3 separate regions of the Homo sapiens genome follow, and all the other regions are reported to be linked to region 1. Evidence: microRNA targets listed by miRTarBase, many of them from high-throughput screens and not tested one by one. Region 1 holds a microRNA gene; each other region holds the end of a gene's coding sequence. Distances are from middle to middle.
The links. Region 1 holds the annotated microRNA hsa-miR-6786-5p (GCGGUGGGGCCGGAGGGGCGU, at 1,191-1,211, shown strand). A microRNA usually pairs through its seed, bases 2 to 8, with sites in the 3' UTR of a target mRNA and lowers its output. Matches are read on the target gene's strand: a 7mer-m8 pairs with bases 2 to 8, a 7mer-A1 pairs with bases 2 to 7 and ends in A, and an 8mer does both.

Region 2: the mRNA of HES7 is a reported target of hsa-miR-6786-5p. The part of its 3' UTR that is shown has no 7-base or 8-base seed match.
Region 3: miRTarBase lists ZNF333 as a target of hsa-miR-6786-5p. Seed matches in the 3' UTR shown: 7mer-A1 at 4,378-4,384.

What each region holds. Positions count from the first base shown.
Region 1 is chr17:81,692,619-81,696,618 of GRCh38, forward strand. MIR6786 (microRNA 6786) reads left to right here and starts at 1,139; the gene lies at 1,139-1,251. HGS (hepatocyte growth factor-regulated tyrosine kinase substrate) reads left to right here. Exons shown (of 22, transcript NM_004712.5): 9 at 885-963; 10 at 1,036-1,134; 11 at 1,252-1,347; 12 at 2,197-2,235; 13 at 2,306-2,449; 14 at 2,546-2,605; 15 at 3,168-3,381; 16 at 3,739-3,911; 17 at 3,989-4,000. RefSeq lists a silencer at 58-243.
Region 2 is chr17:8,118,097-8,122,096 of GRCh38, reverse strand. HES7 (hes family bHLH transcription factor 7) reads left to right here. Exons shown (of 4, transcript NM_001165967.2): 4 at 60-1,505. The coding sequence ends at 526. ALOXE3 (arachidonate epidermal lipoxygenase 3) reads left to right here and starts at 3,583. Exons shown (of 16, transcript NM_021628.3): 1 at 3,583-3,611; 2 at 3,794-4,000. TRK-TTT3-5 (tRNA-Lys (anticodon TTT) 3-5) reads right to left here and starts at 2,942; the gene lies at 2,870-2,942. It overlaps TRQ-CTG1-5 (tRNA-Gln (anticodon CTG) 1-5), which reads right to left and starts at 2,345; the gene lies at 2,274-2,345. It also overlaps TRL-TAG1-1 and TRR-TCT2-1. RefSeq lists silencers at 1-26, 247-706, 1,647-1,856, 2,227-2,316, 2,447-2,496 and enhancers at 3,017-3,116, 3,267-3,336, 3,417-3,496, 3,218-4,000.
Region 3 is chr19:14,717,419-14,723,600 of GRCh38, forward strand. It overlaps ZNF333 (zinc finger protein 333), which reads left to right. Exons shown (of 12, transcript NM_032433.4): 11 at 239-315; 12 at 810-4,481. The coding sequence ends at 1,907. Among named protein-coding and RNA genes, the nearest start is that of ZNF333, 30 kb to the left of the region's middle.

The DNA of each region.
Region 1 (4,000 bases):
CACTTGCTGCCGTTTCCCTGTGCTGGGGGCTGTGCAGGTCTGCCTCGGTGTGGACTTTTCTCTTAGGAAAGAGCCCCAGGTCGGCCGAGCACGGTGGCTCATGCCTGTAATCCCAGCACTTTGGGAGGCTGAGGCGGGCAGATCACGAGGCCAAGAGATCAAGACAATCCTGGCCAACATGGTGAAATCCCGTCTCTACTTTTTAAGTATTTTATACTTAAAATTTTTGTATTTTATACAAAAATTAGCGGGCTTGGTGGCAGATGCCTGTAGTCCCAGCTACTCGGGAGGCTGAGGCAGGAAAATCACTTGAACCTGAGAGGCGGAGATTGCAGTGAGCCAAGATGGCGCCACTGCATTCCAGCCTGGGCGACAGAGCAAGACTCTATCTCAAATAAAAAAAAAAGAAAAGAGCCCCAGGTCAAAGGTCAGCGTGCGTGGTTGGAAATTGCGACCATGCTGTGAGCCTGCGGCCCTTGGACTGCCTGGGGCGCCCCGGAAGAGCTTACTGGGCATGACAGTCACTGACCTGTTTGCCCCTTCTTGGGTGGGGCCCGTCCCACAGTGGCGGTGCTGTGTTTGGTTTCCCGAGTGCCGTAGGAAGGTCTTCGCAGGCCGGGCTGGTGTCCTGAATGTCCATTTTCAGGAGAGGAACTGGGGCTTACCCTGAGGGACTCACCCGAGCCCTTGTGGCTGGTGTGATGCCCTCGAGTCCTGCCCTGCTCTGCTCTGGAGTGTGGCCATTCGGACACCTGTGGCTGTGGAACCACTGTCCTCACTCTGTGGGGACACTTAGAGGAGCCCGCAGAGGTGTGGTTGAGAGCTTTGGCGGGGGCAGGGCGGTGTCAGCGCATGGTGACCTGCAGCATTCCTTGTGCCCACAGGAAAGCGGAGGGAAAGGCCACTTCCACCACTGAGCTGCCCCCCGAGTACCTGACCAGCCCCCTGTCTCAGCAGTCCCAGGTACTCAGCCCCCTCCGTCCCGTGGGCACCTCTTCCCCGGCGCCCCCCCTCACCCTCCCCGCTTGTCCTCAGCTGCCCCCCAAGAGGGACGAGACGGCCCTGCAGGAGGAGGAGGAGCTGCAGCTGGCCCTGGCGCTGTCACAGTCAGAGGCGGAGGAGAAGGAGAGGCTGGTAAGCCGGGTGGGGCGGGGCGGCCTCAGGAGGGGCCCAGCTCCCCTGGATGTGCTGCGGTGGGGCCGGAGGGGCGTCACGTGCACCCAAGTGACGCCCCTTCTGATTCTGCCTCAGAGACAGAAGTCCACGTACACTTCGTACCCCAAGGCGGAGCCCATGCCCTCGGCCTCCTCAGCGCCCCCCGCCAGCAGCCTGTACTCTTCACCTGTGGTGAGCGGCCCTTGGGCTGGAGCTCCCTCTCCTGGAAGGCAGTAGGGTTGATGGGGGACGCGGGTCCCTGAGCTGATTTAGTCAGGTTGGTGGGGGATGCGGGTCCCCGGGCTTCCCAGAGAGGACAGCCCCAGCACACGGGCGGACATCAGGGCAGAGCCCCACGGCTCCAGGCACCCGTTGCTCCTGGTCCCTGGTTCGGCCCTTGGGACTGAGGACATGGGACAGGCTGTGGGGGAGGCGCCTTGCTGGTGAGACCCCGTCTCTTCCACACCCCTCCCGCCCCACAGGAACTGAAGGACTTGCTTTCTGGGGCATCCACGTCACCTCTCCCTGGCCTCAGCCCCGCTCTCAGTAGAGGGTGAAGAGGCAGCCTGTTTTGCAGGGGGTTGGGTCGGGGACAGCAGGTTGAGAAAGTCATTTTGTAGGTTCCGTGGAGTGGCCAGGCCGCTGCAGGCCCAGGGGTGCAGAACAGCCCTGCCCCAGTGAGCCACCCCTTCCCTTCTTCCCTTCCTTCCGGGCTGTCGGCTGGGGCCCCACACGCTGGACCGTGGGGGCTGTCCAGTGTCCACCTTGAGGCCCCAGGGCTGGCCCAGTGCCACCCTGTTCCTCCCATAGCAAGGTTAGGAGCCTTGTAGGACGGCAGTGCTGTCAGCCTCTGTGGAGTTCTAAGCATCTGGAAGAGGAGAAAAGATGGCTGCTCAGATGCCAGGAACCAGAGGAGGGCACGGAGGGAGGGCCCAGGCTGCGGCTCTGGTCTCCAGGATCTGTCGCACTGGGGACATCCCTGTCCCTGCCGAAGCAACTGGCTCTGTCACCTGTGAGACTCAGATGCCCTTTTCTCCCCAGAACTCGTCGGCGCCTCTGGCTGAGGACATCGACCCTGAGGTAAGGCCCAGCATGGGGTGCATCCTCTCACGGTTTCTGGCCTTGGGAGTGACCCCCTCATTGCCTGCAGCTCGCACGGTATCTCAACCGGAACTACTGGGAGAAGAAGCAGGAGGAGGCTCGCAAGAGCCCCACGCCATCTGCGCCCGTGCCCCTGACGGAGCCGGCTGCACAGCCTGGGGAAGGGCACGCAGCCCCCACCAACGTGGTGGAGGTGAGGGGGCCACTCCCGGCATTCCTAGTGGCAGGGTCCCTTGGAAGGGGTGGATGCGGGACAGGTTGGAGGCCCCACTCATTCTCTCTCTTCCAGAACCCCCTCCCGGAGACAGACTCTCAGCCCATTCCTCCCTCTGGTGGCCCCTTTAGTGAGGTAAGCTGTGGCTCCCTCCACGGGCCAGGGCAAAACATGGCCTCCTGGCCCACAGCGCCAGGCACATGGCACAGGTGCCTGCCCTAACCAGAGGGCCGTGCTAGAGCAAGGGTGTCTGCCCCAGCCCAGCCCTGGCCTGCCCTGCCCTGCCCTTTGTGGCCTCTCCCAATGGAAACTCTACACCAGGCTGTGGTCCAGAGCTCGGGCCACTCTCTGTGGACCTAACATGGACCTGAATATTCCAGAGCAGCCTAGAACCATCAGATGAGTCCTTGGCGTTGCCTGGGGCTTGTGGGCTGGTTGGCTGTCAGAGCACAGGTCCCTGGAGAGGGAGCTGGCAGTGGGGCCCTGAGCCAGCTCCGTCCTGACCAGGGCTTGCAGCTGGACAAGGACCCCGCCTCCAGGGCCTCGCCTTCCTCAGCTGTAGAAGGGGCTGCTTGCATAAGGAGCAGATGGACTCTGCTCCAGGCTTGAGTATAGCTGGGTGCCTCCATCCCAGGCCCCACCAGGGAGGCTGGCTGGGGCGTGGCCGCACTCATCCAGAACCCTGCTCTGCCTGCAGCCACAGTTCCACAATGGCGAGTCTGAGGAGAGCCACGAGCAGTTCCTGAAGGCGCTGCAGAACGCCGTCACCACCTTCGTGAACCGCATGAAGAGTAACCACATGCGGGGCCGCAGCATCACCAATGACTCGGCCGTGCTCTCACTCTTCCAGTCCATCAACGGCATGCACCCGCAGCTGCTGGAGCTGCTCAACCAGCTGGACGAGCGCAGGCGTAGGTGCCCGCGCCACGGGGCCTCGGCTCAGGGGCAGCCAGGTGTTGTGAGCGCCATCCTGGGCCAGGGCCTCCCCTGAGGGTGCTGAGCTCTTGTGAGTCCTTCATTGGGGCCGTGGCTTCCTCCAGAGAGTGTCAACAGGAGGTGGTCTCAGTGATGACCATGCCCTGCCCTGCCCTGCCCTGCCCTGCCCTGCCCTGCCCAGGACCCTCTGCCTGCCTCCCCCAGAGCCCAGCACCTTCAGAGCCCTCTGCAGAAGGTTGGGCACAGGGCGGCCCATCTGCGTGTCCGTTCCACCCAGGAGCTTCTCGGCACTGTGCCGGAGTGGTCAGGGTTGCTCTGTCATCTGCCCACAGTGTACTATGAGGGGCTGCAGGACAAGCTGGCACAGATCCGCGATGCCCGGGGGGCGCTGAGTGCCCTGCGCGAAGAGCACCGGGAGAAGCTTCGCCGGGCAGCCGAGGAGGCAGAGCGCCAGCGCCAGATCCAGCTGGCCCAGAAGCTGGAGATAATGCGGCAGAAGAAGCAGGTGCAGTGGCTGCCCAGCCACAGGCCGGGGCCGGCTGGGGGACCTCGCAGCATAACCAGCATGTTTTTGCCGCACAGGAGTACCTGGAG
Region 2 (4,000 bases), 74 Mb from region 1:
TTCCCTCACCCCTGCCGGGCCCCTGCCCTGCCCACCTGTGCTCCCGCCGGCCGCACCAGCCGCCGCGGCTCCAGGGGTTCCCCGGTCCCCAGTCCAGGACGCCGAGGCGCTCGCCAGCTGCTACTTGTCCGGTTTCCGCGAGTGCCTGCTTCGCTTGGCGGCCTTCGCGCACGACGCCAGCCCGGCCGCCCGCGCCCAGCTCTTCTCCGCGCTGCACGGCTATCTGCGCCCCAAACCGCCCCGGCCCAAGCCGGTAGATCCGAGGCCTCCAGCGCCGCGCCCATCCCTGGACCCCGCCGCACCGGCCCTTGGCCCTGCGCTGCACCAGCGCCCCCCAGTGCACCAGGGCCACCCTAGCCCGCGCTGCGCATGGTCCCCATCCCTCTGCTCCCCGCGCGCCGGGGATTCTGGCGCGCCGGCGCCCCTCACCGGACTGCTGCCGCCGCCACCGCCGCCTCACAGACAAGACGGGGCGCCCAAGGCCCCGCTGCCCCCGCCGCCCGCTTTCTGGAGACCTTGGCCCTGAGCCTTGGGGGGTGGTGGGGGCGGGGTCTAGGGGTGGGGTAGAGACTCCAGCCCGAGGGCAGCAGAGGGACCCGGGCGTCCGGGCGAGCAGGTGTTGGGGAGGGCAGTGGGGCGCGCGGGCTCAGCGCGCGGGTGAGATGTGGTCTATATTAGAGTATCTATATAAATATATATTTCCCTGGTTCCTGTCCCTTTTCCCTGCCCCAACTTCTCCCTTGCGTCTAGGATTGTACTCTCTCTGCCCCTCAGCCCAGTCCCAGTCCCTTCCCGAGTCCCTAGTGCATGGAATAAAGTGGTTATTAAATCCCCGTGTGTCCCCGAGCCAGGGGCCTGCCTTTATCTCGACGTCCACGCCCACTTTCCCTTCCCTTCTGTCTCCCACCCTCAGTCCTGCTCTCCATGGCCCAAGCCCCGGGGCAGACAGGTAAGTAAAGAAGAGAGCAGAGCGGGAACTGAGATCGAAATTGAAACCAGGTGGAAAGAGAGAGATAGGGTAGGGGGAGAAGGGATGGGGGCCTTTAAGAAAAAAACGGATAAAAAGGAAAAATTGAAATAAAATCGACTCTGGTGGGATTCGAACCCACAACCTTTGAATTGCTCTATTCGTCACTAGAAGTCCAATGCGCTATCCATTGCGCCACAGAGCCACCCGACGAACGGCGGCGTCTTGTAGCTTACGGGTACTAGAGTGGGAATGGGGCAGGGTTGGGGAGCGGGGCTAAGGGACTTGGGCGGGACATGCCAGGAGGGCGCGGTTTGGATCTCAGAGGCCAAGCCAGGTAGAGGTAGCGGGCGCAAAGCATGTTAGCCAGGTGAGAGAGAGGGCGCACATGGGTCGAAAAAACAGGGAGGGAGAGCAACCGAAAATGGCTGAGCGAGCGAGTGCAGAGCTCCGGCTGCCCGCTTGGGGGGTGTTTCCGGCTCAGGCGCTCCCCACTCCCAGATATAGTCCCACCCAAATAAACTAGTTTTGTTGTAAATTTCTGTGTGTTTTTGTCTCTTCTCGTTTATCTGTTCTGCCATCTGCTGCTATGCGGTCCACAGTCTCGATGGTTCTTCATTTCCAGTCTAAAAGATGTGGAAAAGGAGACGAATCAATTTGGCACTCTTAAGATTTGCCCCATTCCTTACTTCTAGTCTCTTAGGAGGACAACGGGGACAGTAAGTTTTCGTGCAGGTAGCGTGGCCGAGCGGTCTAAGGCGCTGGATTTAGGCTCCAGTCTCTTCGGAGGCGTGGGTTCGAATCCCACCGCTGCCAGGCTGGAGTTTTTCTGGTGGATTACGCACCTGCTACAGTTCTGTTAACAGTTCTGTGAGGTTACACCTATTTACATGCAGAAAGTAATTTTACGAATTCCCCTGGTAATGGTTTCACCATCATCTTCCGTGTTTGGTCTTCCAGAGAGATCATAGGCCTGCATCCATCCCAGAAGCTAAGACCTGATGGTAACTGCTGAAGCAATATTTCGTTTCTTCATAACATCTCTATTATTTCGTTTCTTCATAACATCTCTATTTTAACATGTTTTCAAATGTTAGCTCAACTTCCAACATATTTAAATAATTTATTGTACGTTCTCTTAACACTGTGTTATAGGACTCAATTATCCGGTAGGAAAAGCACAAATAATTGGTAGTGTCCTAGTTTACTTTTTTTTTTTGTCGTATTATCTTGGGTCATAGGAGTATCCCCTCTGTGAAAATCAATTAACAATATTCAACATGCTGATATTAAAAGAAAAGCTTCAAGGTTCCACCGAGATTTGAACTCGGATCGCTGGATTCAGAGTCCAGAGTGCTAACCATTACACCATGGAACCTCCCTCGTGGTGTCTTTCAAGATTGTGTACATTACTGGACATTCTATTTTGCGTGTCTTCCACACCCGTCACTTAAAACGAAAACAAAACAAAGTCTGCTGTTGGATATGGTAGACACCGTTATCGAGCACTTGAAATATATGAATTCAGATGTATTGCCAGCTTCTAAATACACATCTTCTTTTGAAGGAAGGCTTTGTACAAACAAAAAGACTTAAAATTTCATTAATATTTTTAGAATGTTGATTATATGTTAAAATAAGATTTTGGTATATTAGGGTAAGTAAAATAGATCCGTGAAATTAATTTCGCTTGCTTTTTATTCTTTGTAATGTGGCTACCAGAAAATGTAAATTCGATAATACGGCTCGCGTTTGTACTGTTTTAAAGTATGTTTATTACCCTCCACCGTCGTTTGCTGTATTTTGTGGAAATCAAGTTTCTGTATCACCTAGCTTTAAAAACTAGTAACTATTTTTGTTACCATTTTATGCGAAGTGCGGTACCCAAAAGCAAAGACATGCCGCCCGAACAGGGACTTGAACCCTGGACCCTCAGATTAAAAGTCTGATGCTCTACCGACTGAGCTATCCGGGCTCTTCACGAGAGCTTTACTTTTTGCTTATAAGAGGGTTCTCTATAGGAAAAGCCAGGCTTGTAGAACCGACAGAGGATTTTATCTGTGCAGCATAGAATATTTTGGCACAGATTTGGAAGCAGCGGGTGAAGCTCGCCTGCTGCTGATTGAGCTTTTTCTGCCTCCCGTTCTTAGAGCCCCCGCCGAGGCTGCGACGCAGGGACTGTACCATAGTAGAGGCTGGAACAGTGCGGCGCCGGAACCGGCCGCGCGGGGCCGCTGCGGGCTATGGGCTTCTCTGAGAGGTTCCTCCCCAGTCCCTAGTGGCCCAGATCCCGGACACCTGGGCTCCCGCCCAGGATCCTGCAGGCCCAGGGCGGTCCTGGAGCGGAAAGAATGCCACGCGGGGCATTCAGACCCTGTTTGCCGGCGCTGTATTTCGCTTTCCTGACCTGCCCTACTCCAGAGCAGAGAATGAGGTCGGGCGTGCCAAAGGCTGGGGACAAAGAGGGCCATGCGTGGGGGGATCGGTGTATGGGGTGACAGGGAGCTGTTCCTGACCATTTGACATGTGCTGGAATGCGTGTGCGACTCACCTGCGTGTGGCTGCAGTCACGTGTGATTTATGACCAAGTGCAACTCTCCACTGTTTAGTGATTCACACGGATGATTCACACGTAGGAATGCAGGTGCCCTGTGCTCATCTCTGCCTGGGAATGGGGAGGAACAGATCTTGGGGGACATTGGGGAGTGGGCGGACAAGCACTCCAGGGCATCAGTCCGGGCCGCTGACCAGGCGGAGGGCAGTGTCCCAATTATACAGGCGTTACCTCCTTTTCTCCATCTCAGCATCTGATCCCTCCCTCCGCAGTGGAACCCAGGCTCCTGATATCCATCTGGGTGAGCCAGCCAGAGGGACCGGCTGTGTCAGAGGCAAGCAAACAAGTATTAGAGTGCAAGACTGTGGGCGGAGAGAGGAAGCCCGAGCCGCCAGCAGGGAGCTTCGGAGAGAGAAAGCCCAGGAACATCCCAGAGAGAGCTGGGCCCATCCTCAGCCCTACCCAGCCCCGCAGCCCCT
Region 3 (6,182 bases), not on the chromosome of region 1:
AAATTACCTACTATTTCCTTCCCATGTTCCTCTGATTACATAACTTCTCATCTAGCCACACACCTTAAAATTTTCCTTAACTTTTAGATGCATTCCTTCTCATTGCAATTTCTTCCCGTACATAGGACCAGTATTTGGGAAAAAAAGTCCACATGTGCCTTGCCTACTTTTGAGGTGACCTTGATCCCACAGTTTCTTTCTCTGTGTGCTTAACTTTTTCTTCCCTAATTCATTTCAGAACCTCAGTGTCAACCCCAAGAGGCAATTCCTAGCCAAGATACTTTTACAGAGATCCTGTCCATTGATGTGAAAGGGGTAAGGCTCACCAGGGATTATTCATGGTTCTCTATAGTAGGATGAGTCTGGGGTTAACCGTAAGTTAGAAAAGCAGCCCAAGAGCCAAGAGCGATTCGAGGCAAGAAGTGTTTACCCAGAAGGAAGCAGTTTCTTGGGAGAGAGTCCGTGAATGTCATGAATTGGTGGAAAACTAAATGTAGATCATGTTCGTACAAGTAAGCATTTTCACAGATATGACACATACAAAGTGTTTAAGACTTAATTTAGCCTTACACAAATTGGAAAAATTCTGCATCTAAGAAGCTGCATGAAAATAATGAAAAGATAGCTCTTTGCAACAGAGTATCCACCCTATTCCACTTGAAGGAACTCTGGATAGAAATGGTATGGACTCCATAAATGGTAAAAGTATCAGATATAGAACTGTCTTTTTCTTACATTCATTTCACATAGGGGAGAATATCTGTGAATCTAATAAGGCCTTTGGTCTTCACATTTTCCTTCATCGACAGGAGCAACCTCAGCCTGGAGAAAAACTCTATAAATATAATGAACTTGAGAAACCTTTTAACAGCATTGAACCACTTTTCCAGTACCAGAGAATTCATGCTGGAGAGGCATCCTGTGAATGTCAAGAGATTAGAAATTCCTTCTTCCAGAGTGCCCACCTAATTGTGCCCGAGAAAATCCGTAGTGGGGATAAATCCTATGCATGTAACAAATGTGAAAAATCCTTCAGATACAGCTCTGACCTTATCAGGCATGAGAAGACTCATACTGCAGAGAAGTGCTTTGACTGTCAAGAATGTGGGCAAGCCTTCAAATATTCCTCGAATCTCCGGCGACACATGAGAACCCATACCGGAGAGAAGCCATTTGAATGTAGTCAGTGTGGGAAAACCTTCACGAGGAACTTTAACCTGATTTTGCACCAGAGAAACCACACAGGAGAGAAGCCCTACGAGTGTAAAGATTGTGGGAAAGCCTTCAATCAGCCATCATCCCTCAGGAGCCACGTGAGAACTCACACTGGAGAGAAGCCCTTTGAATGCAGCCAGTGTGGGAAAGCCTTCAGGGAACACTCTTCACTGAAGACACATCTGCGAACCCATACCAGAGAGAAACCATATGAATGCAACCAGTGTGGCAAGCCCTTCCGGACGAGCACTCATCTGAACGTGCACAAGAGGATACACACAGGGGAGAAACTGTATGAGTGCGCGACTTGCGGTCAGGTCTTGAGTCGTCTTTCAACCCTGAAGAGTCACATGCGAACTCACACTGGAGAGAAGCCCTATGTGTGCCAGGAATGTGGGCGAGCCTTCAGTGAGCCCTCATCCCTCAGGAAACATGCAAGGACTCACAGTGGCAAGAAGCCCTATGCATGCCAGGAATGCGGGCGAGCCTTTGGTCAGTCTTCACATCTTATTGTACATGTGAGAACACACAGTGCCGGGAGACCCTATCAATGTAATCAGTGTGAGAAAGCCTTCAGGCACAGCTCCTCACTCACTGTACACAAAAGAACCCATGTGGGAAGAGAGACCATTAGGAATGGCAGCCTGCCTTTATCCATGTCTCATCCATACTGTGGGCCCCTTGCTAATTAACTTCCATTTTGTAAAAATATAAACACATGGGGCTATGACTTTCCCTCGTAATACTCCTTTAGCTGCATCCTGTGTTTCAATGTATAATATTTTCATTTTGGTTTAATTGTAAGTATTGTCTTAACCTCCATTATCGTTTATTCTTTGACCCATCTATTATTTGGAATTAGATTTTTCAAAACTAATATGTGGATATATTTTCATAGAGGTATAATGACTTATAGTGAAATGCATACATCTGAAGTGTACAGTTGGATGAGTTTGACAGATGCATACATGCATGTAACCACCACCCCATTCCAGATATAGAATGTTTCTATCTCTCTGGAAGGTTCCTGCATGTTATATGGCTATTTCTTAGTTGCCTTTTTGTTGTTGGTTTCTAATTTAATTACATGGTGAGAAGAGTATGTGGCCTCTTTGTTACTGAGTCATAGGTATTTGCTGAGATTTGCTATTAGGTCTGGTGTGGCTTATTCTTCTAGCTGCCAACCCAAATTACCCCTTCCTCCTTAGAAAAGAACCTGGGTTTTCTGTTCAGATTGGCAGTGTGCACTATTAAAAAGCTTCCATCTCCCGGCTGGGCACGGTGGCTCATGCCTCTAATCCCAGCACTTTGGGAGGCTGAGGCTGGGGGATCACCTGAGGTCAGGAGTTCGAGATCAGCCTGGCCAACATGGTGAAATCCCCTCTCTACTAAAAATATAAAAATTAGCCAAGTTTGGTGGCATGCACCTGTAATCCCAGCTACTTGGGAGGCTGAGGCAGGAGAATTCTTTGAACCCAGGAGGCAGAGGTTGCAGTGAGCCGAGATTGCGCCACTGCACTCCAGCCTGGGCAACAGAGTGAAACTCTGTCTCAAAAATAATAATAATAAAAAAAAGCTTCCATCTCCCAGCCCTTCTTGCAAGCAAGGGCAGGCCATTTCCTCCGGTCCTGGCTAGTATGAATATGAGAAGTCACTGGATGTGACTCTGGGGAAGATATTGTGTTCAGGGATGGTTTCATGTAGCCACATCTCTCCACTTCTTGCCTTTTGGACAAGTAGACATGATTTCTAGACCTAGAGGAGCCCTCCTGTGACCATAAGGGTAAAAGCCGCAAGCTAAGAAGAGGGTGGCCGGAAGTCATAACCATCTTGCTTCTGTAATCTAAAAAATATTTAGGATAGATTTAATAGAATTGGCATATTTATGTGATTGCAGCAGCCCTGGACTATTTATTTCTGGATGTCCCATACATGAAAAATATGCACTTCTTACTGGTACAGTTTTCTTTTGTTTGTTTTTGTTTTTGGTGGGAGGTTTATTTCACCTGAATATAATTCCTAACTGATGCACTTAGTATATGTCAGTTTTTATAAATGCTTCATGGATGGTTGAAATCAATGTATTGTATTCTACAAATGTCTGCTAGATCAAGCAAATGTGTTTAAAAACCATCTACACATTTATAAATGTTGATCTGTGATCTAGCATTTATTGAGAGAGGTATGTTAAACTCTCCCACCATGATTATGTATTGCTGAAAAATCTTTGTCATTCTGTCAGTTTTTAAATTTATGTATATACATACATATATATGTTTTGAAGCAATGAAATTAAATATAGATACTGACATTTTTTACATTTCCAACAAATTGTTACTTTTATTCTTATAAAGTGATCATCCTTTTCCCTATTACTGAACATTCAACCATTCATTGTAATGATAGTAAATACTTATTTAGAGTTTACTATTAATAGATAGTAGCCACTGCCTGAAGCTTTGCATCTTTTAATTTAGTCCTCACACTGACACTTTGAGGTATGTACTGTTATCCCCAATTCCCAGATGAGGAAGCTGAGGCCCAGCAAGTTAAGGTGGGCTATCAAAGTCATCTGGGTGGCATGTGACAGGCCTGACTCTCTCTACAGTGGCAGACCCAGGGGACTAGTCTCCATTTTTACTTGTTCTTTTTTTTTTTTTTTTTTTTTTTTTGGTTTTAAAGTTCTCTTAGGTATAACTTACATAAACGTTAATAAATCTTAGGGTACACCTTGGTGAATTTTGTATATGTCTATACCCACCACGGTCTCCATCAAAATATTTTATCGTCCCAGAAATTTCCCTTGGGCCCCACCTCATCCTCAAAGGTTATCACTATTCTGATGTCTATCACCATAGATTTGTTTTTCCTGTTCATGTAAATGGAACCATAAACAGCCCTCTTGTGTCTGTTTTCTTCACTTAATATAGTGTCATTGAGATTTATCTATGTTGTATTATCAGTAGTTTATGCTTTTTAATTGCTGTGTAATAGTCCATAGTCTGAATATACCACAATTTAAAAATTCTATTCTGTTTACAAACATTTGAGTTCTGTCCTCCAGGTTCATCCATGTTATCACAAATGACAGAATTTCCTTCCTCATCAAGGCTGAATAGTATTCCATTGTGTAGATATACCACATTTTCTTTATCCATTCATCCACCGATGGACAGTTAGGTTGATTCCATATCTTGGCTATTGTGAATAATCCTGCAGGTTTTATTGTTATGAATAAAGCTGCTGTGAATGTTCTTGTTAAGTCATACTGTGGACATAGGTATTCATTTCTCTTGAGTATAAATGTAGGAATGGAATTACTGGATTTTGGAGGAGACCTATCTTTAGCTTTAGTAGATCTTGCCAGACAGTTTTTCAATGTGGTTGAAACCATTTACACCTCAATTTGTACATCAATGAATGAAAGTTTCATTGCTTCACATCCTTGGCAACATGTGGTACTGTCACGCAAATTAATTTGAGCTACATTAGTGGGTATGCAGCAGTTTCTTAGGTTTAATTTGCATATTCTTGATAAGTAATGATGCAGTGGTAGATGGTTGCCACAATGACTTCTTCTATCCCTCTATGTATATGTCTTTTCCATGTGACTTTGCAGCTCCTCCTATCAAGAGGTGGAGTTTATTTCTCCAAACCTTGAAGACGAGCTTGGTCATGTGACTTTCTTTGGCCAATGGAGTGTTGACAAACATGACAGAAGCAGAGGCTGGAAGAACACACGTTGGGCTTTTCCTTCTTAGTTGTGACCATTTGTATGTCATCTGTGGAAAAATGTCTAAGTCCTTTGACCATTTTTAAATTAGTTTTTTGTTGTTGTTGAGTTGTGGAAGTTCTTTATATATTCTGAATATTAACCCCTTATCAGATATATGATTTGCAAATATTTTCTCCCATTCTAGGGGTTACCTTTTTACTTTATTAATTGTATCCTTTGATATGCAGAAGTCTAAGATTTTGGTGTAGTCCAACTTATAGATATTTTTTGTTTTCTTTAGATGTCATATCCAAAAAATCATTGCAAATCTAATGTCGTGAGGCTTACCCCCTATGTTTTCTTCTAAGAGTCTTATTGTTTCAGCTCTTGCATTTAGGTCTTTGATGTATTATGAGTTAATTTCTGTTTGTTTGTTTGTTCGTTTTTGTGTTTTTGAGACGGAGTCTTGCTGTGTTGCCCAGGCTGGAGTGCAATGGCGCAATCTTGGCTTACCGCAACCTCCGCCTCCCCGGTTCAAGTGATTCTCCTGCCTCAGCCTCCTGAGTAGCTGGGACTACAGGCGCATACCACCATGCCTGGCTAATTTTTTTGTATTTTTAGTAGAGATGGGGTTTCACCATGTTAGCCAGGATGGTCTTGATCTCCTGACCTTGTGATCTGCCTGCCTTAGCCTCCCAAAGTGCTGGGATTACAGGTGTGAGCCACCATGCCCAGCCAAGTTAATTTTTATATATGGAGTAAGAAAAGAGTCCAACTTCATTCTTTTGCATGTGCATATCCAGTTTTCCCAGCACCATTTGTTGAAGACTGTCCTTTCCCCATTGAATGGTCTTGGCACCCTTGTCAAAATTCATTTGACTATAAATGTGAGGTTTTATTTCTGGGCTCCCTCCTCGATTCCATTGGTCTATATGTCTTATCTTTATGCCATTACCGTATTGTGTTGATTACTGTAGTTTTACAATAAATTTTGAAATAAGTGTGGTGTGAGACCTCCAACTCTGTTCTTTTTCAAGATGGTTTTGACTTCTTGGTTTGGTATTCTTGAGATTTCATATGAGTTTTAGGATGGATATTTTTCTGTTTCTGCAAAAATATTAAGTCATTCAGCCCGTGAACATAGTATGTCTATTTGTGTCTCTTTTAAGTTCTTTCAGCAATGCTTTTTAGCTTTCAGTGTACAGGTTCTTCATCTCATTGGTTAAGTTAATTCCAAAGTATTTTATTGTTT